Homo sapiens: one gene and its partners. The protein of the gene in region 1 interacts with the protein of each later gene in a biochemical or structural test. Each region holds a gene or a part of one and is shown on either strand. Other genes may lie near its edges.

Region 1 (11,453 bases):
ACATCTAAACCTCAGCTCCAGGGAAAGGAAGAACCAATGGAAGTGCCAGAGTCCTGGGGCAAGCCAGAGCATCACCTGTCAGCAAACCTCTGCTGGGCACTCTAAGCAAGCACAGGACAAGCCCCAGAGTTTAGTGTGTCCAGTATCCAGCATGGAGACAGCACATGCATTGTGCGAGAGGAGCACAAGGGCCCAGGGGCTGCATGGTGGGGGTGGGCAAGGCTGTCAGTGCACGTCCACATTGTGTGTTTCACACCACTGCAGGCCGCCATATCACAGGGCCTCAGTTCAAGGACACACCTTCTGAACTTCCCCCTGTCCCATGCCAGAAGTGGGGCAGTGAAGGAAAGGGGCACGGGATTAGGCTGTTGCTCCTGGGCTATCTGCAGTTCTTGGGCCCAAAGCCCCTGAATCCCCATAGTTAGTTGCTGTCATTCTTGATGACGACCTCTAATCCGTGGTGCCGCAACTGAGCTCGAAGCAGCAGATTCTTGTTTTTAAGATCTTCCACCTGACATGGGAAGGAGGCAGTAAAGGGAATGGGTAGTAAAGCTGGCACTTCCAAGCCCCTGAATGTATTCAGACATCCACTGGTGAGGGGGAAAAGATGAAGCCTTCTCCATGGAGAACAAAGTAGAGGGTGTCAAACTGGGTCAGTGGCTAGCAGAACTGAGAAGGGCTGCACTGGGGGTAGGAGTCTGACCTGTTGTCGAAGCACGTCATTGTCCAGCTGCAGTTGGTCAAGTCCCTGCAGTTCTTCAGACAAGCGGTGGTTACTCTGCCGAAGCTCCTGGATATAATCACAAGCTTTGGATAGAATCCCACCTTTACTCTGCAAGATAAGGTCAACAAAATGAGAACTAGGATTTCAGATACCCAGCTTGCTTTCCAAAAGTAGGTTCACACTTTGGACCTCATTTTCATCTAAGGAAGGTGGTATAATATCTCCCAGGGATACAGGAACCTCAGGGAGAGATAAGACTACTGTCATGTGTGCCCCTCTCTCTACCATTTCTGGAAACAATACCAGGAGGCAGAATTCAGGCATCCTGCCCACTACCAGGGTCTTTCCATGACCTGGCCAGACTTGGTGCTCTCCATAGAGCAGTCTGGGATTATCTTGGAGAGCTGCACGATCCAGTTGTTGATCTTGTCTCGGCGGCGACGCTCCACTGTGGGGCAAAGTGGAGGACAAGGTGACTCAGTGAAAACTCGCCACAAGTCCCAGGGTAAAATTACCTAATCCCTCCTCCCCTCAGACATCACTGCTGAGATCACACCAGACAGCTTCTAGCTCCACCCAGATCATACCTACCTTCATTATGCTGAGCCCTGCGTTTCTCATCCCGAGTCGTCCGGGGAGCTTCTGACTTCCTGACAACAGAGCCCAGGGTGGCCAGAGTAAGAAGACAAAATACATGATTGAAGTTTGGGGTTAAGGAATTATACAAGATTTAGCAGGTATTAGGACCACTTATGGTAGCTAGGTGTGGTGTCTCACACCTGTAATCCCAGCACTTTGGGAGGCCGAGGCAGGCGGATCACTTGAGGTCAGGAGTTCGAGACCAGCCTGGCCAACATGGTGAAACCCTGTCTCTACTAAAGATACAAAAATTAGCCAGGGGTGGTGGTACATGTCTGTAGTTCCAGCTACTCAGGAGGCTGAGGCATGAGAAACGCTTGAACCCTGGAAGCAGAGGTTGCAGTGAGCTGAGATCATGCCACTGCACTCCAGCCTGGGTGACAGAGCAAGACTCTGTCTCAAAAAAAAAAAAAAAAAAAAAAAACCACTTACGGAATCTGAGAAGAAACAAGGGTCACTCACGGGGAATAAGGGTGAGTCCTAGGGGCAATTGAGCGCTGGCTTCCTCCCTGCAGTACTTCTTGTGGTGACATCATCACAAAGAATTGACCTGTGAAGATGCAGGGTAGGTTCTGTCAGGACATGGGTAGGAACCTCACCAAGCCCTGAGGTGAAGACCCTGGTCCCCTCCTCTAAAAAGAACATGCTAATAGAAGAGCAGCCCCAGACTCACTGCCTGTCCAGGTCTTAATGATCACTAAGAGTCATGAGTGAAGGCTCACTGCCTACCAGTCATGTCCCACAGCCTATTCTAGCCCTTTCAGCCAGCATCCTCATGCAATATCTCACCAGTGCCAGGAGGGGTCGCCTGCCCCAGCAGTGCCTCTGAGCCCTGGGTAGTAACAACAGCAGCTGTACTCCCCGATGTGGTACCCCCTGCCCCATCTCCCACTGCCGTGCTGGGGAAGTAAGTATAGTGCGTCTCAGCAGCTGTCCCCTCCGTGTCAACTGCATCATCACTGGTGAAAGCACCCTGGATCACCGCCTGGGAAGGGGAGCAAGAAAACTGATTCTGGTAACAGTCAAAAACTTCTTCCCACTACACCACTCTGCAGCTTCTATCCGTTGGGGTGGTAGGTAGGGTGGAGAGAGAGAGAGAGAGAGAGAGAAACATCCAGAAAAGGAGAGCCTAGTGCTTTGGGACAAGGCAGCCTTAGATGCCTCACTGTTCCTAGCTTCACCCCCATCCTACTGATTCCCTTCTTCATCTTACTTCTCAGAACTCTAGTGACCTCCCCAGCCCATACCCTGTACCTGGGTCATGGATTGAGTGGCAGGGTAGCCACTGATGGCGCCAGTTCCCTCAGTTTGGCCATCCAGCTGCCCCTCAGACACCTGGATCACCCTGTACATCACCTAGAAGTGTAGAGGAAGGCAGAGGGAGTGAAGAGAGAAGAAAAGATTAAGTGTTGGGAATCCTAGGGCCCCTCATAAAGCTTCCCTTGGATAGGGCCCCAAAACAAAGTCCTTCAGAGACATGGATTCAGCCATTCTCCCTTCTTTCCCCACACAGAGGTTTCAGCATACATCTAACCTCACACCAGTCTCTACTCCAGTATTAGCACCTCCCTCCCCTGCAACAGTCCACTCTTTCAACTCATCCTCCAAGCCAGGTCTCCCCAAGACATGTTCAATTACCTCCCTCAATCCCAACCCCAGATAACACCTGCAGCCACCTGGCCCCCTCCCTTACCTGGCCCCCATTCTCAGTTCGGAAGACGTACTTGACGTTGGGGTCAGGGAAGGTGGCAGCTGACTGGATGCTGGCAATAGCCACACTGGTTGGGTCTTCCCCAGTAGCCACTGCACCTGAATTAAAAGAACAAAGGAAAAGTCTGTGAGTTAACTGCCTTTCTACCCCCGTTCCATTTGCATGTCACGGAAGGAGGAGGATGCACAGGAGATGGTCTGGTGGGGAAGGAAGGGAGGCCATGATGGGTTCTTAGTCTTGGTTCTGTTTCTAGCACTCACCTTCCTGAATCTGCACTGTCCCCTCTTCCGTTTCAGCTGTTTTCTGCTGCCTGTTTGTGGTGAAAGGACAAAAGGAAGAGTATGAGAAGAAGTCAATGAGAAGCTCACTGGCCCAGTAACATATGGCTGCAAACTCATTGGCATTCCCAACAGAAGCTGGGTTAGGTTAGAATAACAACTAGTGTTTACTGTTTACTATGTACATAAGCACTAAGCTAAGTACATTACATGTAATCTTATTTAGTACTAAAAACAGCACCACGAGATAGATAGCACTACTTCCATTTTATAGATAGAGAAACCAAATCACACAGTAAGTGATAGAGTAGAACCTGAATCCAGGTCTGCCTGACTCCAGAGGCAGTGCTCTTGGTCATTTTGCATTCTTCCAGGCCACCCATCTTTCATCCCAGACCCTACCTCTTCTTCACTCACCCCTTCATCTCTCTGTGAGGGGGCACATCCGAGGAACTGGTCCTTTTTTGGAGGTCTTTGTATCTCCTGATTCACAGGCCTGAGTGCTAAGTCCTGGTAGAAATCATGAAGTTTGCAATGAGTTTAGGAAACAGAACAGTATCTCTGGTTCTAGAACTTAGGTTCCATGAACACATAGCCAGGAAAATAACCCAGTCATCTGCAGGGGACAATCAGCCTCCACCATACTGATGTTGAGGACTGGCCTACAGTGATTGAAAAAGCAAGGCTACAAATAGTGTTCCCCATCCCTCCATTATCACTCCAACTCCTGGTGGAGAGTGGATAATTATACTGGAAGACAGAAACAACACTTTTTTTTTTTTTTTTTTTTTGAGACAGAGTCTCTCTCTGTCACCCAGGCTGGAGTGCAGTGGCGCGATCTCAGCTCACTGCAACCTCTGCCTCCCAGGTTCAAGTGATTCTCCTGCCTCAGCCTCCGGAGTAGCTGGGATTACAGGTGCACACCACCACGCCTGGCTAATTTTTGTATTTTTAGTAGAGACGGGGTTTCACCATGTTGGCCCGGCTGGTCTCGAACTCCTGAGAGCATGATCTGTCCACCTCGGCAGCCTCCCAAAGTGCTGGGATTACAGGTGTGAGCCACTGCACCTGGCCGAAACAACACATTTCTTTCTTTTTTTTTTTTTTTTTTCTGAGACAGAATCTTGCTCTGTCACCCAGGCTGGAGTGCAGTGGCACAATCTCGGCTTACAACCTCCATCTCCTGGGTTCAAGTGATTCTCCTGCCTCAGCCTCCTGAATAGCTGGGATTATAGGTGCCCACCACCACGCCCAGCTAATTTTTGTATTTTCAGTAGAGATGGGGTTTTACCATATTGGCCAGGCTGGTCTGGAACTCCTGACCTCAGGTGATCCGCCTGCCTCGGCCTCCCAAAGTGCTTGGATTACAGGCATGAGCCACCGCACCCAGCCAACAACACATCTCTAAATGGATCATTAAAGCTATTATGACCTGCCATGATGGCAGCTTCATGGGAATCAGGAAGGGCCATGTATTGGCCCCACCATCAAAAAATACAGTGTCATGGACACTGATGCTTCTTCCAGTTTCTCAGCCACATGTTGTCCATCAAGACATTTCTGTTTTCAAACCTAGGAAGAGGAAATCTGAAGCCCACTACCACTGGAAGAATATCCCTGACCACAAAGACTAGACTTGGCATTTGGGCCCCATTCTACTGACAGGACTCTTGTTTTGGGGTATCCAGATTTATATAATCTGTTAGAAACCCTAAAGCCCAAGTGGATCCTCTTCAAGCATTCTCTATTTTATTCATCAAGCCTTCCTGCAGAACAACACTGTTGCTAAAATGTTGCTATGACAACTCCAAATCAACTAAGCCTGAGCAAGAAGGGGTAAAAAAAAAAAAAACAGGGTTCTGAAGAAGAGACAAAGGGGGAAGAATCCACCTACAAGCTCTGCCTTAGGACCCTGACACCCAGCCAGAGGGCAGGAAAAACAAAGAGCTGGGCAGACATGCCTCCAGAAAGAAACAGCTACACAGTACAAAGCAATAAGATAATCCCAACACAAAAGGGGCAAGATTTTTGGAAATTCTCTACCCATAAGGTCCTCCAAACCTTTCCTATCCAAGGAAAATTTTCAATGGATAAGCCTCGGAAAGACCGCGTCCGAGGAAAATGTTGAAAAAGGAACTGAAAGTGAAACCGTACAGACGAAGTAACGCTGCAAGGAGATCCCAGTCGATAAGGGGAAGTAGCACTAGTGTTTTGGGACCACCTACATTTCCATCTTCAAACCTGAAGAGGAAATGCCCTGCGAAGCTTGCCGCGCTGACTGCAGGGGAAGGCAATGAAATAGAGGGCCCGGCACAGGAGGCATCTCTATTGGCCACAGCTGTCAGCCGGGGCAGTCTCTGAGGACACCCAGCAACGGGGTCAGGGTACTTATTCAAATCTTAGTTGGACATCCGGAAGCATTTCCTAGGCATTAGGGATCGGTGACACGGAAACAGGGATGGGACGTTGTGGTGTGCACGCTCAGGCCAGAAGGGCCCAGTAAGAGCCCTTGCTAAGTCTGGACACAAAGGGAAAAAAAATCAACTCCCGAAAGAAGTCAGGCACCTAGACCTTGCCTTAGAATGAGGCGTCTCCCTGCAGGCTCACCAACCAGAAGGCGCTTACGGAGCTGAGCGCCCGCCAGGCGCGAGCCCGGGAGCCTGCGCCGTGACCCCGCAGCCCCGCAGTCTTAGCCCCGCGCCCCAGCTGCTCCGCGGAGGAGGCAGGAAAGGGCCTCGGGGACTAGGGAGCTCAAGCGCCCGGTGCCGGCGGCTGCGGCGCGCAGCTGGACAGCGCAGGAGGGCTGGGACGCTCGCGCTCTGGGGAAGGGAGAGAGTTTGGCCCACAAAGCAGGGTATGAGATAAAGAACCAGCACAGCCCCCTCCCCCAAAACAAAGGCTTCCTCCCCAGCAGTGTTCTCTAACTTGAAAAACGGAAACAAAATCAAAGCTGCCCTGCCTTGCCAGTCCACCCAGTTTCCAGACTTCTGCCCGGTCCTACACTCACCGGCCAAGGCCGTCTCAGCTGCCGATTTTCTCCAACTGTGTTCTCCCTCTCCCGGCCTAGGTATCTCCATAGACAGCTGCTCATGCGCACTTCCAGCCCGCGGCCATGTTGGTGAGGGGCGGAAGTGTCGCTCTCGCCCCGCCCATAAACTCAAACTCAGAACTGCCCCACTTCCGCTCACTCCATCTTGATGAGAGTTGGTGTTTGTGGGTTATTTGTGAAGCCGGAAAGAAGCCGTGTCCTGGAGAATGTAGCTGAAGGCCTGGCCACTTTCGACAAGAACGGGAAAGAGACGACTAACTTGTACTAATATCTTAGTGCTTGGCAGGGCATTTTTTCATTCCAGGAAAGAAGAGAATCCAGCTGAGATCAAGGGAGGGACGTCCGACGGAGGCGCCATCTTTAACAAGGGCTATTTGGGAGGCCATCTTGGCGCAGGGCGTCTTTTTGAAAGGTTACCTGCTAGAGATTACGACCTATCGGGGCATGCATAGAATTGGATATGTTCCTTGTTATTCGCGTCAGCAGTCACTCATCCAAAGACCCCAAAGCTTCTAGTGTTCTAAAGGCTCACACCTTCTGTGACAGGAATCTTGATTCCCATTCTTCTCAATCAAGACCTACCCTGAATGGATTTGGAGTAGTGTGGTATAATGGGAAAAATTCAAGCTTGGGGGCCAGGCAGATCCAGGTTTCAAACCCATCTCTGCCACTTCTTACCTCTGAGACCTTTGGCAAACATTTTGACTTAATTGAGCCTTAGTTTCCTCATCTATAAACTGGAGATACTAGCACCAACCTTCCAGAATTGTGTGGATTAAATAAAATCAAGGACATAGATTTTGTGAGCACAGGATACTTAGTCCAGTTCCTGGCACATAATGAACGCATTATGTAAATATAAGTTTCTCTTCCTTATTTCCTGACCACCATGAACCTAGCTCTAGTTTCTGGCCACTAGTCTCCATGACAACAACTGAGGAAGAGCACCCAAACAAGAAGAAGAAAAAGAATGTTTTGCCAAATATGTGAAGATATAATACCTATCACCAAAGACTTTAATAAGAATAATGAGACTCCACACTATGTGTAAAAATACAGCTTTTATTCTGAGACATTGACCTTCACTAGAGTGGGACCTGTGGCCCCAGCCTGGCTGGAGAAGCAGTCCCAGGGCCTGAGTGACACCATTTCCCTTTCCTGAAATAGGAACAAGTTATTCCAAAGGAGAAAGGAGAGCCCAGAGAGATCTGTACAGGACCTCTCTTGCACATGGTGACTGGAGGCAGAGGGTGGGGAGCTGGAGAGGAGTCCAGTCCCTCCAACAAATATTGAGGGCTTCAAAGAGCTCTTCCTGGACGTTTCTCTTAATCTGGATTTAAAAGGGACAGGAGGTATCTTAGGGTCCAAGAACATAACAGGAATGGGCAACTCTAGAAGTGTTTGTGTGTGGAAGGCCCTAACCTGGCCCTGTCCTCCCTGTCTCTACCTTTGGCTTTCATGAAGAGAGATTCACAGCTCAGAGGAAGGGAGGAATTTCTCCAGTCTTCACTTTAACAAACTCTTTTAAGTTTTCTGCCTACCTTATGTTCCCTTTGGCCAATGACCCACTCCCTGGGAACAAGATCTTGTTGACTTTCTTGGGAATCTCCTAAGAGATAAGTGCTTTGTGTCGGAGACAAGTTCAGGTAAACCAACCAAGGCAGTGCCTCCCACAGTCAAAGAGAGAAGCTGGAGGGCCAAAGCCTATAGAGTTGGGCACTACAGCTGCTCATGCTGCAGAGGAGACAGCTAGTCAGGAACCCTGGAGATTCAAGACAACTTGCTGGTCCCCTTTGCCCAGGGCTGTGGTCCTAATCACAGTCCTTCACCTTTCCCAGGGTTAGCCTGTGTTTCAAATGCATATGACCTGCGCTGAGAGGACAACAGGGGGTCAGGAACCTGGGGTTCTCTGGGGGGCAGACTAAGACGACTCCGGGATCCAGACCCTTCTGCACCTTCAGATGGGAGCTCCAGGCAGCTAAGGGGCCGAGGAGAATGGGCAGAGATCATGCTACAAGGGGAGGTTCTGGGGATGAGGCAGTAATCCCCACCCTCAGTACAGGTCTGGGTTCGCCGAACTCCTTGAGCCTCAGTCCTTTGGCGGTCCCGGGCTAGGGCCACAGCAGCATCAAAGGAAAGACTACCCCCATTCCTCCAAGAGGATCGAGAAGCTCGGGACCCCCAAGCCCTTTCTCCAGGAGTCCCATCAAGCCGGCCAGGCCTCGGGCATGGATTTGCAGGTGCCACATGAATCTTGCTACACATTGCACTGGGCATCTTGGCAAACTGTGGCTTGGGGGGCACCACAGGCACAGAGCGGACCTGTTGGACCTGAACCAGAGTGGAAGCTAGACGCATGCCCACGCCACCCAGGCCAAGAGAACAGGGGCATAGACAGCCGTCTGGACTGGGCTGCCCCTCAGGCTCCATCTCCTCTGGCTGAGGTGGCTGTGGGGCTACCTCTTCCATCTCAGAAGAGTGAGGATTGCCCTCTTTGGCACAGTCAACCTCCAGGGACGCTACACCTGAACCTTCAGAGAGGGTGTCCTCTTCTAAATAGTACCCTCCAGCCCTCTGGTCTCCCTCAGCCTCTCCATCCCCACTCTCCCGTTCCTTGCTGACCTCCCCTGCTCCTCCTTCAGTTGCTGCTTCTGGGCTTCTGCTGTCTTCACCATCTCCTTGGTCTTTTCTTGCTTCATGGTACCCCTTCTCCCTCTGTCCTTTGTCCTCATCCTCTCTGACTCCCTCAGCCTCTTGTTTCTGTACAACTTCCCATTTCTCCTCAGCAACTTGATCTTCCTGGGCCCCTTGCTCTAGGTCCCTTCCAGCTTCTACCTGGGCTTCCTCTCTTTGTTCATCCTCTTCTCTCTCAATTTCTTTTTCCTTCTCATCTGTATACTCATCTCCTCCTGGTTCCTCCACACCTTTAGCCTCCATACTGTCAGCCTTCTTCTGACCTTTGGACTTCTCTTCCTTGGCCTCTGTCTCTTCCCTACTCCCTTCTCTCAATCTGACTTTTGTCTCTTGGCTTCCCCCAGCCTCCCCTCTATCCTCACTGGCCTTTCCAGCCTCCACCTTGGTCTCTGGACTTCCCTCTGCCTCTTCCCTGATGTCTAGCCTGCCTCCAGGCTCAGCCTGCTTGTCCTCCCCAACTTCCCAGCATGCCTGCTCTTCCCCACCCTGTCCCAGAGCCTGCCTTCCACATCCTGCTGCCTCTCCCTCCAGACTCCCTGAACCCTTCCAGATTGGGGGTTTAGGTCCCAGAAGGGGACTTAGGTCATCATAGGCACTCAGGAAAACTTCCTCCCCATTTTCCTCCTCAACTTCAGGCCTGGGGCCAGCGGAGTCCAGGGAACAGCAGCTGGGGGCCAAGACAAACTGTGCCTCATCCAGAGACAGGTCATCCAGGGGTGGCTCCACAGAGAACTCCTCCACCTGTAGGCACAGCATTGTGACTCAGGACCAGGAGGCCCTGTCCACCCTTGACTCCATGCCACCCCCAAACCCAGCACGGCTCTCCTTACCTGAGGCCCAACTCCCAGGAGCTCCTCCAGGTAGCCCATCCCAGGGTCGTCCTCCCCAGGGGAGAAGGCTGCTCCTGCTGCTTCTGCCTGGGCCACCTCCCCATCCTCTGCCCCCACCCACTCAGGTTCTGAGCTGCTTGAGTCCTCTAGGAAGGAGAAGGAGTCCTGCACCTCCTGGGACAGCGAGTCCTCCAGGGCAGGAGCCAAGTCGTCTGGGCCTGAGTCTGCCAGGGGACTTGAGGCTGGACTTGCTTCCAACTTTTCATCTGTTGGGGGAGAAGTAGTCCCAGGAATACAAAGGTCAAGCCCTGACCCTTTTCAGTGTGAGTCCTCCTAGCATTGATATAGCAGGGGCCCAGCACTCCCAGCATTGCTACTCTGCATGACTGATCCTTTCAGACCAATGTCCCTAGTTATTGGCTTGCTACCTTAATTGAGACCCTACCAGGTGCCAAGCACTGTGCTATGTATTTTACAATGCATTGGCATTTTTTCCTCCAAACTATTATGTGGGGTATTGTCCTCATTTTACATATGAGGAAACTGAGGCTCAGAGAGATTAAGCAATTTGTCTAAGGTCATGTAATGAATAAGCAGTACAGCCAAAATTTGAACCCAAGTCTACTTAACTCTATAGCCCATGTTCTTACCCACTATCCTATCCTGCCTCAGGACTTCTCATGAGTGACACTTCAGGAACTGGAGTCAGAGCAAGGATCAGATCCTAGCTCTGCTACTTCTACCTAAATCAATTGCAAATTGATTAACCTAAGTCTCAGTTTCCACTGCTGTAACATAAGGCTAACAATACCTATGTCATAAGATTATGAGAAAATGAAACAAACCAATCCTGCAATCACAGCACTTGGACCTTTTTTTTTTTTTTTTTTTTTGAGACGGAGTCTTGCTATGTCTCCCAGGCTGGAGTGCAGTGGCGCAATCTCAGCTCACTGCAACCTCCACCTCCTGGGTTGAACCAATTCTCCTGCCTCAGCCTTCTGAGTCTCTGGGATTACAGGCATGCCTCACCACGCACGCCTGGCTAATTTTTTTTTAATTTTTTTTAGTAGAGACGGGGTTTCACCATGTTGACCAGGCTGGTCTCGAACTCCTGACCTCCAGTGATCCACCCTCCTCAGCTTCCCAAAGTGTTGGGATTACAGGTGTGAGCCACCGTGCCTGGCCTAGCACTTGGTACTTAATAAACTGTTTTTTGTTTTTTTTTTTTTAATTTGAGACAGAGTTTTGCTCTTGTCGCCCAGGCTAGAGTGCAGTGGCGTGATCTCGGCTCGCTGCAGCCTCTGCCTCCTGGGTTCAAGCGATTCTCCTGCCTCAGCCTCCCAAGGAGCTGGGACCGCAGGCATCTGCCACCACACCTGGCCAGTTTTTTGCATTTTTAGTAGAGATGGGGTTTCGCCATGTTGGGCAGGCTGGTCTTGAACTCCTGACCTCAGGTGATCTGCCTGCCTAGGCATCCCAAAGTGCTGGGTTTACAGGCATGAGCCACGGCGCCTGGCTGGTACTTAAT
Region 2 (11,642 bases), on another chromosome or scaffold:
CAGAAATCCGGAATTCGGCAGCTGTCGCCCTCGACGAGGGGGAGGACTGGACCGCGAGGTCAGATTAGGTTGTCACCCCCTCCCCTCCAGGGGAGGCTTCCCGGGCCCGCCCCTCAGGAAGGGCGAAAGCCGAGGAAGAGGTGGCAAGGGGAAAGGTCTCCTTGCCCCTCTCCCTGCTTGGCAGAGCCGCTGGAGGACCCCAGGCGGAAGCGGAGGCGCTGGGGCACCATAGTGACCCCTACCAGGTGAGACACGGGGTGCAGGGGCGCGGGTCCCTGTGTCTAGTTCTGAGAAGAAAGGGTGCGCCTTTCTGAGAAGCTGGACTTGGGTAGGCCCTCTCAGGATGGGGAAGCCCAGCTGAGCGAGTGGTCAGCCTCTGGCTAGCCTTGCCTTCTGTTGCCACCCCCTTCCCCTTCCTCTTCCCTTCATTGTGTCTGGTTGGTGGGGGACCTCAGGTGACAGGGTCTCTGATGTCACCGGCGTTCACACCCTAGGGTGCTTCAGCTAATCAGATGGATTTGCACTTCAGTCTTCTCTCCTTCACTTTGCCCCTCACAGCCACCTCTCCTCCCTGATATGTCCCGTTCTCCTGGCTATTCTGTGGTTTTGATTCCCATGCCTCTGATTCCCATGGTGGGTCTGCTTATCTGCTTTTCAGGCCTGGTCTGGTTGGATTTCTTGTCCTTGCAAGGAAGTGTGTGTATATGTGTTTGTGTGTATGCGTGTGTGTGTGTGCTTGGAGGTGCCTGGCAATGTTTTCCCCCAGCTGCAGTTACCTTCCAACCTCTTGCTGTGATGGTGTCAATAATCTCATCCATTTGTCAAACGATCTGTCTTTTACAAAGTGCTTTGACAGCCATTCTCTCATGTGACATCCCCGCATTCACCCTGTGGGGGCCTCTTTTATTGGCATCTTCCCATTTTACAGTTGAGAACGTTGAGGCCGAGAGAGGTTGCCCAAGGTCACACAGTGGCAGAACCAGAATTTGAACTCAAGTCCTCAATCACATCTTTCCCTGATGCATGCCTGGTTCTTGCCATCTCTTTTCCTCTGAGTTTGGGCTCGGCCAGGGGTCCCTAGGAGTCCAGGCTGGGGTGAGGTTTAAGAATGGGGATGAGATGAGCTTCCTTTCCAGGAGGGCTCTACTCAGAAGCTTTTCCTGATGGGAGCCTCTGGCTTTTGCCTCTGCCTCATGGAGTTTTCTATCCACTGTGACCTTCATCTTTACCCCAATCCCAGGGTTTGGCCTGGATTCCTGAGAGGGCTCTCTCCTGACAAATGGTAGCACTAGTGGCATCTTTTAACTGTTCAAGCCAAGCTGTTGGGGTAGAATGATCCCCCAAAGGATTAAAGCTTTGTGGGGACCTTGGAGGCAGGGAAGGAAAAATCCATATGCTGAGTGTCTGCATGGTGTTCCTAAGTATGAGATCTCATTAAAATCTTAACAACAGCTCCATGCTGTAATCCATTTCACTGAAGAGAAGACCAAGAACTGGAAGGAACTTATTTAAAGCCCTGTTGCTGTACATTGCAGACGGGATGTACTGGTAGCATAGCTTAGGAACAGATAGATACGGGTTTCCTCATCTGTAGAATGGAGATAACATTGTTCGTTTTGGAAGGTGGTTATGATTTAGCACAGACCTTGGTTATTGTTCAAGTGTTTGTTGTTATTATGGGGAAGGGGACCTGCATGATGTTTTGCCAGTGGGTGGCACCCCTCCGTGTGGCCTAGGTTAGCATTCTGGGGCCTTGTGTTGGTAAAGAGGTCAGGAAGATTCCTTTGGCAAGTTGAGAGCACCTGCCTTTGTGTGTGGGTGTGTGGTGCTGGTGAGGGGTGCTTGGCACTGTTGCTGGCAGAAGGGAGAAAAGGGCCGGCTTTGAGCAACCTGCGAGCTGCTGAGGGCTGAGCAGAGAGCAATCACTCAGTCTCCCAGGCTATTCTGAGCCCTCTGCACCCTGGGGGCCCACTGGAGAGTCAGGCTCCCTCCTTGCCCTCCAGCTTCCAGTTGGGCTGAGACAAAATTAACAACACAACAGGAAACAATGCATGACAGAATAAATTACATGCTAAAATTGTTAGGTGCTTTTGAGTAGCTAGAACTCTGCCCCAGGAGTCCAGCTCTGCTGAAGGCTCCTTTGTGCCTAAATTCTGACAAGTGCTTAGGCTGGAGCCTGTCTTGGAATCTCCTTGAGGGTTTTGGTTCTGGTATCCTGCAGGAACTTTCTCCGGGTGTTTGGTTGGGTGCCCTAGGTGCTCTTCCCAATGGCTGGAGTGGTCAGGACAGGCTTCCTGCAAGAGGGGAGCTGAGCTTGGGGTGACAGCTGAGAGAGTAATGGATACAGGCCTAACCGGGGAGCCGAAGGTCCTGTTCTCTGACCTTGGAGAAGTCCTTTTTCTTCTCTGTGCCTCAGTGACCTCACCTAGGAAATGGTGATCATGATTCTGCCCTGCCTGTTTCGAAGGGCTGCTCTGAAATCATAGTGATGGAGGACCAGCTTTGGACAAGGCACTTAACCTTGCTGAGCCTGTTTCTTTATCTGTAAGATAGGGGAAATCATAGTACTTGCTTCATAAGGTTGTAGTGAGGACTGAATAGAGATAATGCACGTAAGGTACTCAGTAAATGTTATTTGTACCCTGCAAATGTCCTGTACCTGTGTGTGATGCTTATGCAGTTGGACAGGACAAGTAAGGTGGCCCAGAGCACAGAGAGGCCCTCATAGCCAGATGCCATTTATATCCCTATTCTTCCCATTCTAGATCTCCCCCTGACTTTTTTGAGAGTGACTTTGCGGGCTCCTCTGGGCCAGTACCCACTTCTAACAATGGACGGATTTCCACCGCCTCCGGCCTGGCCATTTCCTGTTCTCTTCCAGGGTGTGAGAGGTTGAGGGAGGAGGGGGCCTCAGCGCCAAGGGGAACAGAAAGGTGCCTGGAAACAGTTGGGGTATAGGACTTATGGGACAGGACACTTGGGGCTCTGGAGTGCTGGCTGGGAAGCAGAATGTTTTATCCTTGAGGGGAGATACAGGGGCTATAGGGAAATGAGAACTTGTTGAGCACTGAAGGGGGTGGTGAGGATACTTAGCTTCCCAGAATCTTCCTAGCAGTTTTAGGGACTCCAGGGACCCAGCCCGCGTGATCTGGTTGCCAGGGCAACTTCATTTTTTGGAGCTTTGATGTTGTTCCTAATCTCCCCCTCCCCTTCCTCAGCAGTGCCTCCTCCTCATCAGGGAATGAGGGGAGGAGATGGCAGAAACTTGATGGGTCCCTTCCTCTCCCTGAAGGCTCAATCCTTGATCTCTAAGGGTCCCATTTCCATTCCTCAGGCCAGGCCCCACTCTCAGGGCCCCCAGGGGCCACCATGCCAGCTGGGGGCCGGGCCGGGAGCCTGAAGGACCCAGATGTGGCTGAGCTCTTCTTCAAGGATGACCCAGAAAAGCTCTTCTCTGACCTCCGGGAAATTGGCCATGGCAGCTTTGGAGCCGTATACTTTGTGAGTTGGGTCTTGGGAGGGTGTAATAGGGATGGGGACTCTTCCTATCCCTGTGGACTTCCCAACAGCCCTTGCACACTACTCCATCACACTGGTCTTTCCTGCCTTCTCTTGCTGGGCCAGCAAGTCTTCCCATGCCCGGCTCTCAATGGGGCCTTCAACACCTTCTGGTCTGGTCCTCTAGGCCCGGGATGTCCGGAATAGTGAGGTGGTGGCCATCAAGAAGATGTCCTACAGTGGGAAGCAGTCCAATGAGGTGGGCCAGGTGCAATACAGCCAGGTTGGGGACAGGGGACTCCTGTCTCAAGATGCAAGCTGGGTAACCTCTGCCTACCCTGACCCCCTAGAAATGGCAAGACATCATCAAGGAGGTGCGGTTCTTACAGAAGCTCCGGCATCCCAACACCATTCAGTACCGGGGCTGTTACCTGAGGGAGCACACGGCTTGGGTGAGCTGGTGCCAGATTCTGGCCTGATCTTTACTCCTATTCATGCCCGTCCTTATCGTAGTCCAGTCTCTTAGGTGGTCCCTGTTCGTGGTGCTGTTGTGGGATCTTGGGAAGGAGGAAGTCTCTTTTGACCGCTTTAGTCCTCAGACATACCCACTGAGCAAAAGCCTGGCTCAGTGACACAGGCTGTTAGCAGGTGGGACAGGTCACTGTGGGCTGGAGAAGGTGGAGATTGAATGGGAGTTTGAAGGGATTCAGATGGGCAGTGGTGAATGTCTTGGGCCCAGACTCTAGAAACTCTCCCACCACCCCCTCATTGTCTCCAGTTGCGCTTCCTCCCTGTCATCACCCCGGGGACATAGCTTGAGTACAGGACAGTCAAGGAAGCTCTGTTTTGAGTCCCTGCCCAGGAGACTCTGATCTCTGACCCTTGTCTCTTCCTTAGCTGGTAATGGAGTATTGCCTGGGCTCAGCTTCTGACCTTCTAGAAGGTAAGTGACTGATAGGCCAATAAGTGGAGAAGGGAGAAGAGCAGGGGAGCCATAGGGAAGGGTTAAGGGGAGTTTATTCCAGTCCCACCCTTGCGCTCCCTCGGGTTGATGTTCTTCCTCACTCTCCAGTGCACAAGAAACCCCTTCAGGAGGTAGAGATCGCAGCTGTGACCCACGGGGCGCTTCAGGGCCTGGCATATCTGCACTCCCACAACATGATCCATAGGTACAAGCAGCACCGGCAGTGCCTGGGAGGGGAGTGCTATCTGCACCACCTGTCACTTAGCTGGGCTGCCCCTGCCTAGCTTTCTTGAGACACATGTCTCATCCCTGTACTTTGCCTCTGGCAGGGATGTGAAGGCTGGAAACATCCTGCTGTCAGAGCCAGGGTTAGTGAAGCTAGGGGACTTTGGTTCTGCGTCCATCATGGCACCTGCCAACTCCTTCGTGGGCACCCCATACTGGTGAGTGAGTGAGTGGTGGTGAGTGGAGAGACCTCCCAGGGATGTTGGGAGTAGGAGTGACAGGGTCTCGGCGGGTGATTTGCCTCTCTCTCCTGACCATTCTCCTAGGATGGCACCCGAGGTGATCCTGGCCATGGATGAGGGGCAGTACGATGGCAAAGTGGACGTCTGGTCCTTGGGGATAACCTGCATCGAGCTGGGTAAGAACATCCTCCCTGTTCCCTCATCATCTTTTCCATTCTTTCCTGTTAGTTCCCAGACTCCGGACTACCCCCTTCTCCTAGGGATGGGATCCCAGGCCTCCAAGTTCCTGTCCGTTGTGACTCTACCCTGGAGCCCAATACAGGCAGCTGGCAAATTCTGCCAGCTCTTAGGCCTAGAGATTTTGTAGCATTCATCTCTTCCTGTCCACTACCCTGGTTCTGAATCTTTTCTTAGTGCCCACCATGTGCTGTGCCATGGACTGTGATTCTGGAGGGATAGCAGTGAATGAAAATCCTGCCCTCATGGAACTTACATTTGATTTAGGGAAACCAGGCAGGCATGTTTTCTTTCAATGTGATGAACGCTGTGTGGAGAAGTTACAGGAGCGGTTCAAATGTAAAACAGGGGACTTGACCTAGTTTAGGGGCTGAAGAAGGCCTCCTTGTAGGAGAATATTGAAGCCAACCTGCAAGATAAATAATAGCTGTTTGCAGAATGTAGGGAAGAGCTTTCCAGGCAGAGAGAACAGCATGTGAGAGGCCTAGAGGTAAGTGCAGGCCTGGGGAACTGGGACTAGCTTCAGTTATTTGGAACCTAGCATGTAATGCAGAGAATATTGAAGGATAAGGCCAGAGAGTTAGGTCCAAGTGAGTTCCTAAGGCCTTGAAGCCATGCCAAGGTTCTCATCTCTGTCAGCCAGCACTATTGAAACAATTCTTTAATGAGGTAGGTAACCTTTATAAGGCTTCCAACACAATGCCAGGCACAAAACAGTTGCCTAAGAGTTGCTGTTAGTTTCTCTTATCAACAGCCTCCTGCAGTGATCTCTCCAGTCTCTTCTCCCTTCCAGTCTGTCTTAAGTACTGATGCCAGAGAGGTCTGCCTAAGCTCAGTGCTGTCATTTCACTCCCTGTTTGGAGCCATGAGTGGCCCCCTGTTGCCTTCAAGACTGAAGCCATCCCCATCCTTCCTCCCACCAACCTAGAGGCTTTGCTTCGTAAATGCTGGCCCTTTCCTTCATGGGCTCCACCCTCTGAGTGTGTCATGAACTCTTCCACTTCCTTGCCTTGGTTCGTATTGGGTCCTCTGCCCGAGGTCAGAGATTTGGACGAGCCCTTCTCCTCCATCTTCACAGTCTCCATTTACCATTAGATGCCAGGCCCAGACAGTTGATGAAAAATGTAAGAAACGGACCCAAGTATAAGAAAAAGCTAGATCTGTCCATTTTATTTCTAGTTTTTGGAAGAGATGTGGATACAGAGAAATATTACTCTACTATTGAAAAAAATATATATCAGTCTGATTATAAATGTCAACTCATACTAAGTCAATATCAGGGAAGCAGTGTGGAGAAGGATGTGGCAAACTGGAGATTGCTGTTTCCATAGAAAGAGGGCAGCTAATGCTTATCTCCAGACCATTGTTATGCAGTAATGTAGACTCCATTTCACCAGATTTAATTCTTAAGGAGAAACTGGAAACTTGTATTATTATTTGATTATTACTTTTGGCAGTTAATTTTAAAAATCACCGTTTAGGCCAAAACAACATGACATTTGTCTGGGCTACAAGGGACTCTTAGCGACTCTTAGCTTGCACTTACCTTTCTAATCTCAGGGCTTTTTACAAAGCCCTTCTCTGAATTCCCTGAAGATATGCTAGCTTGAAGGCTCACTGCATACTCTCAACTTCCCAGCCACTTCCCTGTTTCCCTCTTATACCAGTTAATACTTTGATGTTATTTTTTCAGTCCTATTTAATCTTTTAGACTGGAGGTTCCTTGAGGGTGGGGCCTAATTCTTGTTTTTATCTTCCCCATAGCAATTATCAAGTTATCTGCTCCCTTTGGCACCTAAGAAATATTAGTTGGGGTGATAACTGAATGGCTGTCCTTCTGCCTTCGTTACTGCTTTTGTGGATGTTATTTTCTTTGACCCCTATTCCACCCGTGTGCAGTGGAGAGGATGGGTGTTGTATTTTACAGAGGAAGGAATTAACTGAGACGCAACAGGATGATGGGAACTTCTCAAGGTCATGTGGCAAGGAAGTCAAGGAATTGGGGTTTGAACCCAAGTCGTCTCAGTTCCATTCCATTGTCCTCTACCCCCTGCCACCTCTCACCTTCTTCCCTTTCACCTTTTTCTGTAGCTGAACGGAAACCACCGCTCTTTAACATGAATGCGATGAGTGCCTTATACCACATTGCACAGAACGAATCCCCCGTGCTCCAGTCAGGACACTGGTGAGGACTGAGATTCCGAATCTGGGCCCAGGCGTTAGGCCATGGGGTATGGATGCCTGACTCATGCCTTCCCCACCCCTCTCCCACCCTCCTGTGACTTTCAGGTCTGAGTACTTCCGGAATTTTGTCGACTCCTGTCTTCAGAAAATCCCTCAAGACAGACCAACCTCAGAGGTTCTCCTGAAGGTGAGGGCCTGCTGGCCTAGCATTCTCCTGGAACTGTAGCTTGTTACAGCCACAAGAACCCCCAGGGAAATTAGTGGTTCCCAGTTCCTCCTCCACCAAGAGCTTCGTTGATGAATTCCCACCCCATCCCCAATGCCTAGTGGACTCTGTGTTTTACAAGATTTTGTCTACCAGACTGCCTTAATTTATTAAGTAATAAACTGTTTTCCCTTCTTTTATTAATCAAAGATTTATATAATTGCCAGCCAGAGCTTCTGGTCAGCATGTGATAACCAGGGTTGCCCCACTGATCTGATGTAATGCAAGCCAAAAGCCTGTGTAGCCTTATCATGGGTAAATGTATGATTTCCCTTAGGTGTTTTTTGAATTATCAAAAATGGAGGGGCCCCATTCCCTTCACAGACCCATGGGGGCCTGAGGAGCCGTAGTTGGAAACTTCAGATTATGTAGTTGGACCCACTTGTTTTATAATTGTAGGATACTGTATGAAGCCCAGAGGGGCCTCATGACATGTCCAAGGTCACATAGCCCTTTAGTAGAGGAGCTGGACGAGAATCCAGTTCTCCTGACTGTCCCTGCCTGTCAGCCATGCTTAGAGGAAGAAGAGTCTGTCTGGGGAGTAGGTACTGGGTGGTACAGAAAATTGTGAGAGAAGGGCTTGGGATAAGGCCAGCATCAACCCGTGGTGGGCGTGGGCCCCAGAAGAGTGCCTCAGGCCTGAGGGAATGCCAAGGGCTGTGGGTTGTGGGGGGAAGGGGAGTTGGCAGCAGACCTCAGTGCCCTCTTCCCCCAGCACCGCTTTGTGCTCCGGGAGCGGCCACCCACAGTCATCATGGACCTGATCCAGAGGACCAAGGATGCCGTGCGGGAGCTGGACAACCTGCAGTACCGCAAGATGAAGAAGATCCTGTTCCAAGAGGCACCCAACGGCCCTGGTGCCGAGGCCCCAGAGGAGGAAGAGGTGACCCAGCTTGCCCTAACACCCCTCTTTATACCCCATGTGTGCCTGCCCCCTGCAGTTGCTTGGCCCCTTCCCCAGCCCTACTCACACCACCATCTTCCCATGCTACCTCCATGCATATGCCCCAGGGCTTCCCCTTCCCTGTCCAGCAGCCTACGCCCTGTTCGCAGGAGGCCGAGCCCTACATGCACCGGGCCGGGACTCTGACCAGCCTCGAGAGTAGCCACTCAGTGCCCAGCATGTCCATCAGCGCCTCCAGCCAGAGCAGCTCCGTCAACAGCCTAGCAGATGCCTCAGACAACGAGGAAGAGGAGGAGGAGGAGGAGGAAGAGGAGGAGGAGGAAGAAGGCCCTGAAGCCCGGGAGATGGCCATGATGCAGGAGGGGGAGCACACAGTCACCTCTCACAGCTCCATTATCCACCGGCTGCCGGTACACAGCTCACCCTTGGGGGACCCGAGCCACCTGCTCTAGAACTGCCTGGGTCTTCGCCCTCCTTCCCTAAGTGCAGCACTCCTCTGAGTCTGATTGGCTGTCCTCAGGTAGCTCTCTTTGGACCCAGTGGCCTCTGAGCCTTGGGTGTTCCTTCTATCTCCCTCTAGGGCTCTGACAACCTATATGATGACCCCTACCAGCCAGAGATAACCCCCAGCCCTCTCCAGCCGCCTGCAGCCCCAGCTCCCACTTCCACCACCTCTTCCGCCCGCCGCCGGGCCTACTGCCGTAACCGAGACCACTTTGCCACCATCCGAACCGCCTCCCTGGTGAGTGTAGCCATCCTCACTCAGCCTGCTCGCTGTCTGTTTTTTAAGTCTTTTTAAGTCTAGAAATGATTTCCTCCCTGTGGCATGGGATTGAGTCTGGATTCTACCCTCATTTTCTGTTGCTGGCTCCTGCCTGCTCCCCTTAACCCTCCTGCTTCCCTCCTCTTCCCAGTGGACTGTTTTGGTCATATGGCCCAATCTGGGTGTTTCTAGCTTGGCAAACTCTTACTCCGTTTTTGTGGCCTGACTTAACTGACATCTCCTGGGTTGCCTTCCCAGGCTCCTCTGGTGAGTCAGATGCTTCACAGTTGTGTGCTGGGGAAGCCCAGTGCTGGGGGAGCCCTGTGCCTGTGGAGCCCTGTGCTGGGGGTGTCCAGTGCTGGGGAGCCCTGTGCCGGGGGTGCCCTGTGCTTGGGTGGTCCTGAACAGCATCATGATAGGTTTGCCAGATTCTGTGCCCCAGAGGGCAGGGATGGTGTTCAGATATCTGTCTCATGCCAGCAGTTAGCTCTCAGGCTTACACACAGGCCTGTGTTAACCCTCCCAGCCCCCCTGGGAGGGGAAGGGTAAGATCCCATTGGAGAAATGAGGCACCTGTGGCTCAGAGGGGCCACTTGCCCCAGTGCCTTTGGTGGCTCTCTGCTCCTGTAAGCAGGCCCTTAGTCCTCTCCTAAAATCAACTCATGGCAGTCTTTCTCAGTTCACAGGAAAAAGTGTTTAGGCTTTTCATAAAACATAGTTTTTCATCTATGTTTTTAGATCACGTTCCTGCTGAGCTGCATTTGAGCGTCAACAATCCCCTTAGAGGCCACTGATTAAGTCTAGTATGTTCTTATGGCCTCTGCTTGGTGCTGGTTGTGTTCCAACAATTCTTCAGATCCCATGGTGTTGTGCGGTACTGTGCTGAGAGGTCTTGACTGCCAGGGGCTTGGCTGCCGGGACTAGTTTGAGAGCCACTCATAGAGTCAATTGAGAATGAGACCTGAGATCAGACTTTGGATGAAGGTGTCCAAGCCCAGTGTTCTTGTTATTCCAGCATCTTGTGGCCCCGATCCCACCTCAATACCTGGGGAGTGATAGGCCGACCATGTTTGCTGAAGGGGAAGGAAGCCAACACTTATTAGATAGAGTCCGAACTTACCCCACAGCCCCTATGAGGAGGTATTATTTCCCCATTTAACAGATGAGGGAACTGGTGCTTTGAGAAGTTAACTTACTTGAGATCACATGCTTGGTAAGTGGCAAAGCTGGGATTTGATCCCAGGTATGTCTGACTCACTGTTTCAAATTAGTATGGATTGTTCCTACTTTTGTGCCAGGCCCTGTGCTCGCCACCTTTTATCATTCGGCCACACCAACTTGTGATGTAGATAATATCACCATTATCCAGTTGAGGAAACAGGCTAGAGTGGCCGTGTGTGAGGAAGGTGTTAAATGAGAATGAAACCCATGAGTTGAAAACCCATGCTCTTCCCCACGGAAGACCCCTTGTGTTAATTAACTAGGGGCCAGGCTGAGCCCCAGCTCTCACCCTCTCTCCTTCCCCAGGTCAGCCGTCAGATCCAGGAGCATGAGCAGGACTCTGCGCTGCGGGAGCAGCTGAGCGGCTATAAGCGGATGCGACGACAGCACCAGAAGCAGCTGCTGGCCCTGGAGTCACGGCTGAGGGGTGAACGGGAGGAGCACAGTGCACGGCTGCAGCGGGAGCTTGAGGCGCAGCGGGCTGGCTTTGGGGCAGAGGCAGAAAAGCTGGCCCGGCGGCACCAGGCCATAGGTGAGAAGGAGGCACGAGCTGCCCAGGCCGAGGAGCGGAAGTTCCAGCAGCACATCCTTGGGCAGCAGAAGAAGGAGCTGGCTGCCCTGCTGGAGGCACAGAAGCGGACCTACAAACTTCGCAAGGAACAGCTGAAGGAGGTGAGCTAGGGCTGCTTGGGGGCGGAGCCGATGGCGAGCCAGGTGGGTCCTGACCCTGCTTCCCTCTGCACTCGCCCAGGAGCTCCAGGAGAACCCCAGCACTCCCAAGCGGGAGAAGGCCGAGTGGCTGCTGCGGCAGAAGGAGCAGCTCCAGCAGTGCCAGGCGGAGGAGGAAGCAGGGCTGCTGCGGCGGCAGCGCCAGTACTTTGAGCTGCAGTGTCGCCAGTACAAGCGCAAGATGTTGCTGGCTCGGCACAGCCTGGACCAGGACCTGCTGCGGGAGGTAGGCATCCCAATCTCTGTTCCCCTCCCGCTCACTCGTGGATCCCAGGGACCCACCCTTTTCCATTTTCCTCATTCTTGTCTTCTTTCTCCTTGGCCCTCGAGTGTTACAGTTCAGCTTTGCTTCAGTGCCCCTTTTACTTCTCATCCCCAACAGACCCTGCCAGAATTTCCTTAGGCCTCTT
Region 3 (8,960 bases), on another chromosome or scaffold:
CCCACAGTTATTAACTATGGCATTGAGGCTTTGAAGAGATCAGGCCGGTTGTCTAGAGAATGCCCCACATTCTGGGTTTAGATGGCTCTATTTACTGTTGGTAATTTTAAATTTTGGTGTAATTTCAAACTTACAGAAAAATTGCAAGAACAGTACAAAGAGCTCTTTGTAGGCCTGTCCGGGTTTGCTCCATTCTCCCTGCCGGTCCCAGTTTCTCTCCAGGTATCTTTGGGATCCATTTGATAGTAAGCTGCAGACACCATGCTTCTTTATACTTAAATACTTCCGTGTTTTTTTTTTGAGACGGCGTCTCGCTCTGTTGCCCAGGCTGAAGTGTAGTGGTGTCATCTTAGCTCACTGCAACCTCTGCCTCCCAGGTTCAGGCAATTCTGCCTCAGCCTCTTGAGTAGCTAGGACTACAGGCATGGCCCACCATGCCCGGCTAATTTTTGTATTTTTAGTAGAGACCAGGTTTCACCATGTTGGCCAGGCTGGTCTCAAACTCTTGACCTCAAGTGATCCTGCCTACCTCAGCCTCCCAAAGTGCTGGGATTACCATTGAGCCACCACACCCAGCTAATTTTTGTATTTAATAGAGACAGGGTTTCACCATGTTGGCCAGGCTGATTTTGAACTCCTGACCTTGTGATCCGCCTGTCTCAGCCTCCCAAAGTGCTGGGATTACAGGCCTGAGCCACCACACCCGGCCCAGTGTTTACTTTTTTTGAGACGGAGTCTCGCTCTTGTCACCCAGTCTGGAGTGCAATGGCGTGATCCCGGCTGACTGCAACCTCCGCCTCCTGGATTCAAGCGATTCTCCTGCCTCAGCCTCCCGAGTAGCTGGGATTACAAACGCATCCCACCACGCCCGGCTAATTTTTGTATTTTTAGTAGAGACAGTGTTTCGCCATGTTGGCCAGGCTGGTCTCGATCTTACCTCAGGTGATCCTCCCGCCTCGGCCTCTGAAAGTGCTGGCATTACAGGCTTGAGCCACTGTGCCCGGCCCCCGTGTTGACTTTTTAATATCCACAACGATGAAAATCAGGACATTTAACATTGGTGCAAGACTGTTATTCACATTTTGCCTGCTGTCTCAATAGTGCCCACTACAACTTTTTCCCCAGTCGGGATGGCGTCTGGGGCGCTGGTTGTGTTTAGTTGTGAGATGCCCCTGCACGCTGGGGGCCCTGAAGGTGCCAGCCACTCCTGGGGCCTCCCTTGTGGTGTCTGTCCCTCCCTTCTTCACACCAGCAGGTGGTTGAGTCCCGCTTCGCATCTCCCTGCCATCTGCATCAGGCCCCGGTGTCGCTGTCCCTCACGTGCTGTCTGTTGTCAGGCCCTGCTGCAGACTCGGACTGGCCTGTCCCTTCTCTCCTCCTTTCCTGCGGACACGCTGTGACTTCTCCCGTGATCCTTCTGTGAGAACTCCCTGGACCTCGTGTCCTGTACTGGCAACCGCCCATTTCTCTGCTCTCCTTGGCTGCCCGGCTGCCCGGCGCTTGTCTGTACCTCCTGAGCCACTTCATCCTCTCTTGGATCCATTCCCAGCAGCCTGTGATCATGGCCTCCCATGCCGTTTGGTCACGCCACCACGCCCAGCTAATTTTTGTATTTTTAGTAGAGATGGAGTTTTGCCATATTGGCCAGGCTGGTCTCGAACTCCTGACCTCAGGTGATCCGCCCGCCTCGGCCTCCCACAGTGCTGGGATTACCAACGTGAGCCACCGCGCCTGGCCTACATACGGATTTTCATTCTGTTTTTGAACATGGCCACTGGAGGGCCTCTCGGCTGCAGAGCAAGCGTTTGTAGCTTGTTCGTGGCAGAATGAGCCGAACGCTGTGTTGTGACCTGTTTTAAAAATAAAGCATCTTGAAAAAGAAAAGCCATTCTTTTTGTCCTAATGAGTTTATGCCTCCTTACCTCTGGCCACCTGAGCTCCTTGGTCTGCTGTACCCCTCTGGCCTGGGCCGTGCTGGAGTCTTTCTGGGGCTCAGTCATTCACTTTGTTGGTTTTTTATGTGGGGTCAGTGGTAGTGCTTTTTCCATCATAATTTGCTCTTATCTTTATTATCCCAAAACCTTATTTCTATTATTTCCTTCTTGAAGTTTTATTTTTTTCTGGTATCTTGGGTTGAAAGTTTATTTTGTCTATGTTGTTTTCTAATCAATGCATTATAGTAAATTTGTCCTGGTGTGCTTTTGAAACATTTCACAGGTTAGGACACAATGCTTTCATTGTTTCTCAGTTTTAAATAGCTTGTAATTTTTTTTTTTTTTTTTTGAGATGAAGTTTCACTCGTTGCCCAGGCTGCCGTGTAATGGCGCGATCTTGGCTCACTACAGCGTCTGCCTCCTGGGTTCAAGCAATTCTCCTGCCTCAGCCTCCTGAGTAGCTGGGATTACAGGCATGTGCCACCACCCCGGCAAATTTTGTATTTTTATTAGAGATGGGGTTTCTCCATGTTGGTGAGGCTGGTCGTGAACTCCCGACCTCAGGTGATCCACCCACCTCGGCCTCCCAAAGTGCTGCGATTACAGGTGTGAGCCACTGCACCCGGCCGCTTTCTTCCTCTTAATAACTTCCTGGTATATTTTCCTGACTCATAGTTAGAGCTATTTCTTTTTTCTTACTAAGAAAATTTTTTTTATTGTTGGTATTATTATTTTTCTTTTTCTTTCTCTCTTTTTTTTTTTTTCCCAGCGAGGGGCCCTCATTCTGTCACCCAGGCTGGAGTGCGGTGCAACCACAGCTTAGTGCAGCCTCGTCCTCTTGGGCTCAGGTGCTCCTCCTGCCTCAGCCTCCCGAGTAGCTAGGACCGTAGGCGCCCCTCACCACCGCACCCGTCTTGTTGTTATTCTTCTCATGTTCACAAATCTAACATGAGTATCTGCTTTGGGACGTTGTCATCTCAATGTTTTGATGTTATAAAAATTCCTTTAAAACTCAACGATTTCACATATGTTCTGTTGCAAATAGATGCATTTGGATTGAGGTGCAGATTGAGAGTGCGATGACATCAGTACCACGTCTTTGGCCTGGGCTCAGCTGAGGAGGACTAAGGGGATCTGCTCCTCTCTTTCACAGCTGCCCCAGCTCCCAGGAGACGGGTCGTGGGCGGGCCCTGCAAGGGTCCAGATGGAACCACAACTCAACCCTGCCTCTGCCCAACTGTTCATAGTGAAGGCAGACGCCGGGACTAGCCTCATCACTGTGTGAAAATAGTTCAGAAGATCTTGCGAGCGCCTAGTTATGTCTGAGGATGATTATTTTCTTCCTTCCTTCTTTTTTTTTAAATTATCGTCTTTTAAATTTAGATGGATAATTAAGAATGCTTCCAATTTAAGGTTCTAAGCACAAACTCCAGATACGTCATGTTATGGACTTGCTTCCTGAAGATGAAATCAGCAGTTGATGGAAAGAATCCACAACACGCCTACAGAACAGCAAATCACAAATGGCTGTGTCTCCACGAAGCCAGGAGCTTTGCATTTGAAGTTTCTATCTGGGCTCATTTCCAGCTGTTCAGGGTTCGGATTCCTGAAGGCTTCCTTAGCATTTAACTCATTCTTTGTTGACTGAAGGCACTGGCACTGTTTCTCCACACGCAAACTGATCTTTGTCATAAATCACTTTTATAATGAGAGAGCAGCCTGGACACATTGCCACACCTTCCCCATTCTCCAGCTCTTCCTTGGTGATGGAGAAGTTATCTCCGCATGGGCAGGGACAGAAATATGTCTCCGAGTCCTCGTCATATTGGAAGTCCTCGATTTCCACCTCGTCATGAAATACTGCCATGGTCAGCGGGGGTTGCTGAAGGGGTGACGCCCCAGCAGTCCGAGACCAGCTCCGAGGGTCTAACTTCTCCGGAGCCGGCCCAGGCTCTGACTTTCATTTAATTGTCCTGAAAGGTGAATTCTATCTTGCCAAATAGGCAAGTGTTTTTTATATGTAGGCTTTAGGTGTCAGAATATAGGAAATTATCAAAATGTGGGGTCATTTTAAATTGCATCCTAAAACCTTTTAAAATTTGGGAAGAAGCTGGGCGTCGTAGCTCACGCCTGTAATCCCAGCACTTTGGGAAGCTGAGGTGGGCAGATTACCTGAGGTCAGGAGTTCGAGACCAGCCTGGCCAATACGGTGTGACCCCCGTCTCTACTAAAAATACAAAAATTAGCCGGGCGTGGTGGTACATGCCTGTAATCCCAGCTACTCAGGAGGCTGAGGTGGGAGAATCAGTTGAACCCAGGAGGCAAAGGTTGCAGTGAGCTGAGATCGTGCCATTGCACCCCAGTCTGGGCGACAAGAGTGAAACTCCATATCCAAAAAAAAAAAAAATTGGGAAGAAAATGAGTATATTTATATGCAGGTGTAGATTCTGAGTGCACACAGTAGTTGGAAATGGCAGCTTGCTTGGTTGGAAAGTTGCTTAAAAGTGGATGGGTGGAATGTTCCAGTCACTCCAGGTGGTTCAGAAGTTAAATCCATGGCAGCATGGCGCTTGTGTCCTCCTGGACTTGAATTAAGTAGAAAGTTACTACAACTCAGCAACAAAAAGACTACACAGACTGGGAACCGTGGCTCCCGCCTGTAATCCCAGCACTCTGGGAGGCCGAGGTGGGTGGATCACCTGAGGTCAGGAGTTTGAGACCAGCCTGGCCAACATGGTGAAACCCTGTCTCTACTAAAAAAACAAAAATTAGCCGGGTGTGGTGGCAGGTGCCTGTAATCCCAGCTATTCAGGAGGCTGAGGCAGGAAAATTGCTTGAACCCCAGGAGGCAGAGGTTGCAGGGAGGTGGAGGTTGCAGTGAGCTGAGATCACGCTGTTGCACTCCAGCCTGGGTGACAGAGTGAGACTCGGTCTCAAAAAAAAAAAAACAAAAAACAAACAAAAAAAAACAGAAAAAAAATGTTGAAAGCCAGGCGTGATGGTGTGCACCTGTAGTCCCAGCTACTCGGGAGGCTGAGCCTGCAGTGAGCCGTGGATGTGCCACTGCATTCCAGCCTGAGAGAGCAAGACCCTGTCCAAAAAAAAGACAGCACAACTGAAAAATGGGCAAAGAACTTGAATAGACATTTCTCCAGAGAAGATACACAGATGGCCAATAAGCCCATGAAAGATGCGCCAAGCCGTTAGTCATTAGGGAAATACGAATCAAGACCCAATGAGATACTACTTTTACACATACTAGGATGGCTATTCAAAAACAAAAACAAAAGCAAAATAGCAAGTGTTGGCAAGGATGTGGAGACATCAGAATCCCTGTGCTTTGCCGCTGGGGGTGTGAAATGGTGCAGCCACTGTGGAAGACAGTATGACAGCTCCTCAGAAGGTTCAACATAGAATCACCAGAGAAGCATAAACCCCAAAGAGGTGAAACAGGGACCCAAATGGATGCTTTTCTATGAATATTCATGGCAGCACCTTTCACAGTGGCCAAAAGGTGGAAATGACTCAAGTGTGCTCCAGCAGAGGAATGAGTAAACAAATGTGTTACAAGCACACAACAGAATCTTACTCAGCCATGAAAAGGAATGAAATTCTGACACAGGCTACAGCATGGATGGCCCGAGGTCATTATGCTGAGTGAAATAAGCCAGTCACAACAGGGCACACCCTGCGGGATTCCGTAAACAAGGCACCTAGAGCCGTCAGATTCAGAGAGACAGAAAGTGGACTGGTACGTGCCAGGGGCTGGGGGCCGGAGCGGTGTGGAGTTAGTGTTTAATGGGTACGGAGTTTCTGTTTAGGGTGATGAAAAGGTGGTGGCGGCTGCACAGCACTGTGAGTGGACTTCACGCTGCTCCACTGTACACTTACACATGCTTAAAAGGCAAATTTTATGCTATATTTTAATACCACAATAAAAACTGTATAAACCTGGATTTAATCGTGTAGAATGCTATGTTTTAAAACCAACTTATGGAAATTTTCAAATCTGCACAGAAATAGAAAGTGAACTCCCAGGTCCCTCTAACTCAGTTTCAGGCATCAGCTTGTTTCACCTATCCCCTCGCCCTCCCACCCCCGCTGAATTATTTTAAAACAATTCCAGACATCATTTCATTCATAAATATATCTTCCGAAAGAAAAGGCCTGTTTAAAAACACAACCGCATTATCAGTCTCCTTCCTGAAAGCCTTCACTCCTTATTACCCACCTGAGTCTCCTTCCCGAATCTGAGCAGAATCTCCCGTGAGCCCACAGGTGTCTCTACGGTCAGCTCATTTGAATCAGGATCCAAACATCACATTTGGTTGATAGTTTTTAAATATATCTTAACCCGTAATAGTTCCCCCTTCCTTTCTTCCTCACCGTTCATTTGTTGAAAAGGGAATGATTTGTCCCGTAGACGTTTCCACATTCTGCCCGTGGTGGTTGGCGCCTGTCATCGGGCCGTCGCCTGTGCCCCTCTCTTCCTCTCAGTCTCCTTCGGGAGGTTGAGACTGACCCCACCATTATAATTGAGGCCTTTTGTAAAAGACAGGTGGTGTGACAGGAGCAAGCTCAGCCCACCCCCACCCTGCTGGCAGGGTCTCCCCAAGGACAGAGCCATCTCAGCGAGCAGCACCTCCACCTTGCTGGCCTTGGAACCCTGAGTGTGTGGCAGTGCAGAGGGCAAGGCAGTCGCCCTGGGGTGGGGGTAGATGCCCCTGACTTGTTAATTGTTGAAACTTTTTAAAAATTTATTTTTTTGAGACGGAGTTTCACTCTTGTTGCCCAGACTGGAGTGCAATGGCATGATCTCGGCTCACTGCAACCTCCACCTCCCAGGCTCAAGAGATTGTCCTGCCTCAGCCTCCCAAGTAGCTGGGGTCACAAGATGCTTGCCACCACGCCCAGCTAATTTTTGTATTTTTAGTAGAGATGGGGTTTCACCATGTTAATCAGGCTGGTCCTGAACTCCTGACGTCAGGTGATCCACCCACCTCGGCCTCCCAAAGTGCTGGGATTATAGGCGTGAGCCGCCACGCCCGGCCTGAAACGTTTTAATATATACACTCTACCTTCTCTCACACGCTGGGTTTACAGGTTTATTAGCTAGGGCCCATTAGCGGTTGAAACGTTCATGTCATGTATATTTTACCACAATAAAATCAATACAGTGTGGCCAGACATTCTGAGTATTGGAAAAACAAAAGTACATGTACAGTGTAACTGCTATTTGAAAAAAAAAAAGTTAAAATCTGTTTATTATATAAATCCCCTTGTGAGGTAAGACACAAGTTTGTGAATGACACCTTAAAACAGCGTATTCTAAAGTCATTTACTTAGCTCTTAATTTGAACCTTTTGCACTTTGGAAGACAGCAGTTTTCATGTCAGTTAATTCAGTATGTTAACCGTCACTTCTTCACTGCAGGAATTTGAGAGCGTATTTTGCGGTAAAACTGGCCGAAGGCTAAAGCTGACCAGACCGGACTCCTTGGTGACCTGTCCTGCACAGGGGAGTTTACAGAGCAGCCCCTCGATGGAGATCAAGTGATCGGACTGAACAGGAATCCTCGGGGGGTGAACAGCCATTCCTTCGTGACCTGTGCACGCCTTCTGCAACCCTGGAGCTCTGCTCGGCTAGTCTGACTCGAAAAGGGCGTGACTCAAGCTGACGGGACTCCAGTAGGGACTTTGAGAGCACATTTTGTAAAAATATTTATCTAGACGCAAATGCTTATCCATGAATGTCCTCTTAGACCATTTGGGGATGAAGCCATCTTAATAATTAGTAATAATTAATTAGTAATAATTAGTAAGCATTTTCTCAATGCTCTGATTCCATCATGTTTTCTTAACATGATAACTTAAAAAATTGACATCCTTTGTACTTTCTTTAATCTTAAAAAGTACACGGCTTTTTACTTATTTACCTTTTAAATATGCCCCTTTAGCAATTGGAACAAGTTAAATTGTTAACTAAAAACAGTTTGGAAATTTTATTTCATTCGTTATATCACACCCCCTTGTCATGACTCTGAGTCACGTGCTGCTGTATTGCAACGTGCAGGACCATTTTAAACCTGTGTGCTAAAAATTTTCCAGATACTTGCTTTAAAGCTACTTTTGTCCACAAATGAAATACTGTCACAGTAGACGCTTAAATGCCACGTTTTCATACCAAGAGTCATTCATTACTTCATGTGTCACAAACTGTGGTGTTTGGAATTGGGTTTTTCAATGAGTGGCTTTACTTATCAATCACAACAGGTAATAGCAATAGACGTTAGTGCAATACAAAGTCACCCTCAATAAATACTGTTAATTGGAGATGTGAGTTTGTACACAAAACATCAGACTAGACCTTTGTATGGGAGAGAATTTACTGTACATTAAATTCTTTATTTTTTGTTACTCTGTAGCCAGTCATTAATCTGAAGGTTTAATATATCATTTTATTGGGATGAGATCATAGTCTTTACACAAATGCTATGTAAACAAGTTACTGAATATTTTTCACCTCGTGGAGTTGTACACAACCTTTTATATATACACACCCTACCTTCTCTCAAATGCTGGGCTTACAGGTTTATTAGCTAGGGCCTTTTGAGGTATGCTGTCAGGCGACAGCCCGATGAGGGTGCTCGCTGGCAAGGCCCGCGCGTCCAGTCGGCGGCCGAGGGGCAGCCAGGGGCGCTCCCTCTCCTGGACGTCACCCGCCTGCCACACCCCCGCTCCTTCATGACCGTCCACTGTGCTTCGGGCGTCCTTGTCACTTGCTTCCTCACGTTGAATTTTATGAGCTTCGAGAGCCTGATTTCTCCCCGACCCCTCCTAACACGGCTCCTTGGCAGGCTGAGGTGTCGCAGATCCCCGGTGTCCCCTGGGCCCCAATGGCACCTGGAAGCCCAGGATCTCCGGGAGGCCCAGGCTCGCCGGGAGCACCGTCCTGGCCGTCCTTGCTGGTGCCGGGCACGCCTTGGGGTCCTTGGGACAGAGCAGAAAGGTGAGTTCAGCTGCAGCC

What was found.
Region 2: of the proteins of USF1 (region 1) and TAOK2, one has a biochemical effect on the other in vitro, tested with the Homo sapiens proteins (one study listed by BioGRID).
Region 3: the proteins of USF1 (region 1) and TCFL5 form a complex in vitro, tested with the Homo sapiens proteins (one study listed by BioGRID).

Annotation. Positions count from the first base shown.
Region 1 is NC_000001.11:161,039,499-161,050,951, forward strand, and holds the start of USF1 (upstream stimulatory factor 1), read right to left. Parts: upstream 6,480-11,453; 5' UTR 6,360-6,479; intron 5,487-6,359; exon of another isoform or gene 5,414-5,486; intron 3,863-5,413; 5' UTR 3,778-3,862; coding exon 3,770-3,777; intron 3,385-3,769; coding exon 3,335-3,384; intron 3,175-3,334; exon of another isoform or gene 3,173-3,174; coding exon 3,057-3,172; intron 2,720-3,056; coding exon 2,618-2,719; intron 2,349-2,617; coding exon 2,153-2,348; intron 1,914-2,152; coding exon 1,826-1,913; intron 1,375-1,825; coding exon 1,316-1,374; intron 1,173-1,315; coding exon 1,078-1,172; intron 833-1,077; coding exon 704-832; intron 512-703; coding exon 422-511; 3' UTR 1-421. Other genes in the region: ARHGAP30 (rho GTPase-activating protein 30), read right to left, coding at 8,217-9,836, 9,926-10,191.
Region 2 is NC_000016.10:29,974,404-29,986,045, forward strand, and holds part of TAOK2 (serine/threonine-protein kinase TAO2), read left to right. Parts: coding exon of another isoform or gene 1-232; 5' UTR 233-245; intron 246-3,334; 5' UTR 3,335-3,369; coding exon 3,370-3,501; intron 3,502-3,685; coding exon 3,686-3,757; intron 3,758-3,848; coding exon 3,849-3,950; intron 3,951-4,395; coding exon 4,396-4,441; intron 4,442-4,570; coding exon 4,571-4,667; intron 4,668-4,791; coding exon 4,792-4,905; intron 4,906-5,013; coding exon 5,014-5,105; intron 5,106-7,257; coding exon 7,258-7,351; intron 7,352-7,455; coding exon 7,456-7,537; intron 7,538-8,330; coding exon 8,331-8,498; intron 8,499-8,647; coding exon of another isoform or gene 8,648-8,668; coding exon 8,669-8,929; intron 8,930-9,099; coding exon 9,100-9,261; intron 9,262-10,809; coding exon 10,810-11,175; intron 11,176-11,254; coding exon 11,255-11,458; intron 11,459-11,642. Other genes in the region: uncharacterized protein LOC124903762, read left to right, coding at 1-232. UniProt on the Homo sapiens protein: Serine/threonine-protein kinase involved in different processes such as membrane blebbing and apoptotic bodies formation DNA damage response and MAPK14/p38 MAPK stress-activated MAPK cascade.
Region 3 is NC_000020.11:62,840,505-62,849,464, reverse strand, and holds the end of TCFL5 (transcription factor-like 5 protein), read left to right. Parts: intron 1-3,317; coding exon of another isoform or gene 3,318-3,329; exon of another isoform or gene 3,330-3,347; coding exon of another isoform or gene 3,348-3,563; exon of another isoform or gene 3,564-3,762; intron 3,763-7,367; coding exon 7,368-7,490; 3' UTR 7,491-8,460; downstream 8,461-8,960. Other genes in the region: COL9A3 (collagen alpha-3(IX) chain), read right to left, coding at 8,733-8,923. UniProt on the Homo sapiens protein: Putative transcription factor. Isoform 3 may play a role in early spermatogenesis.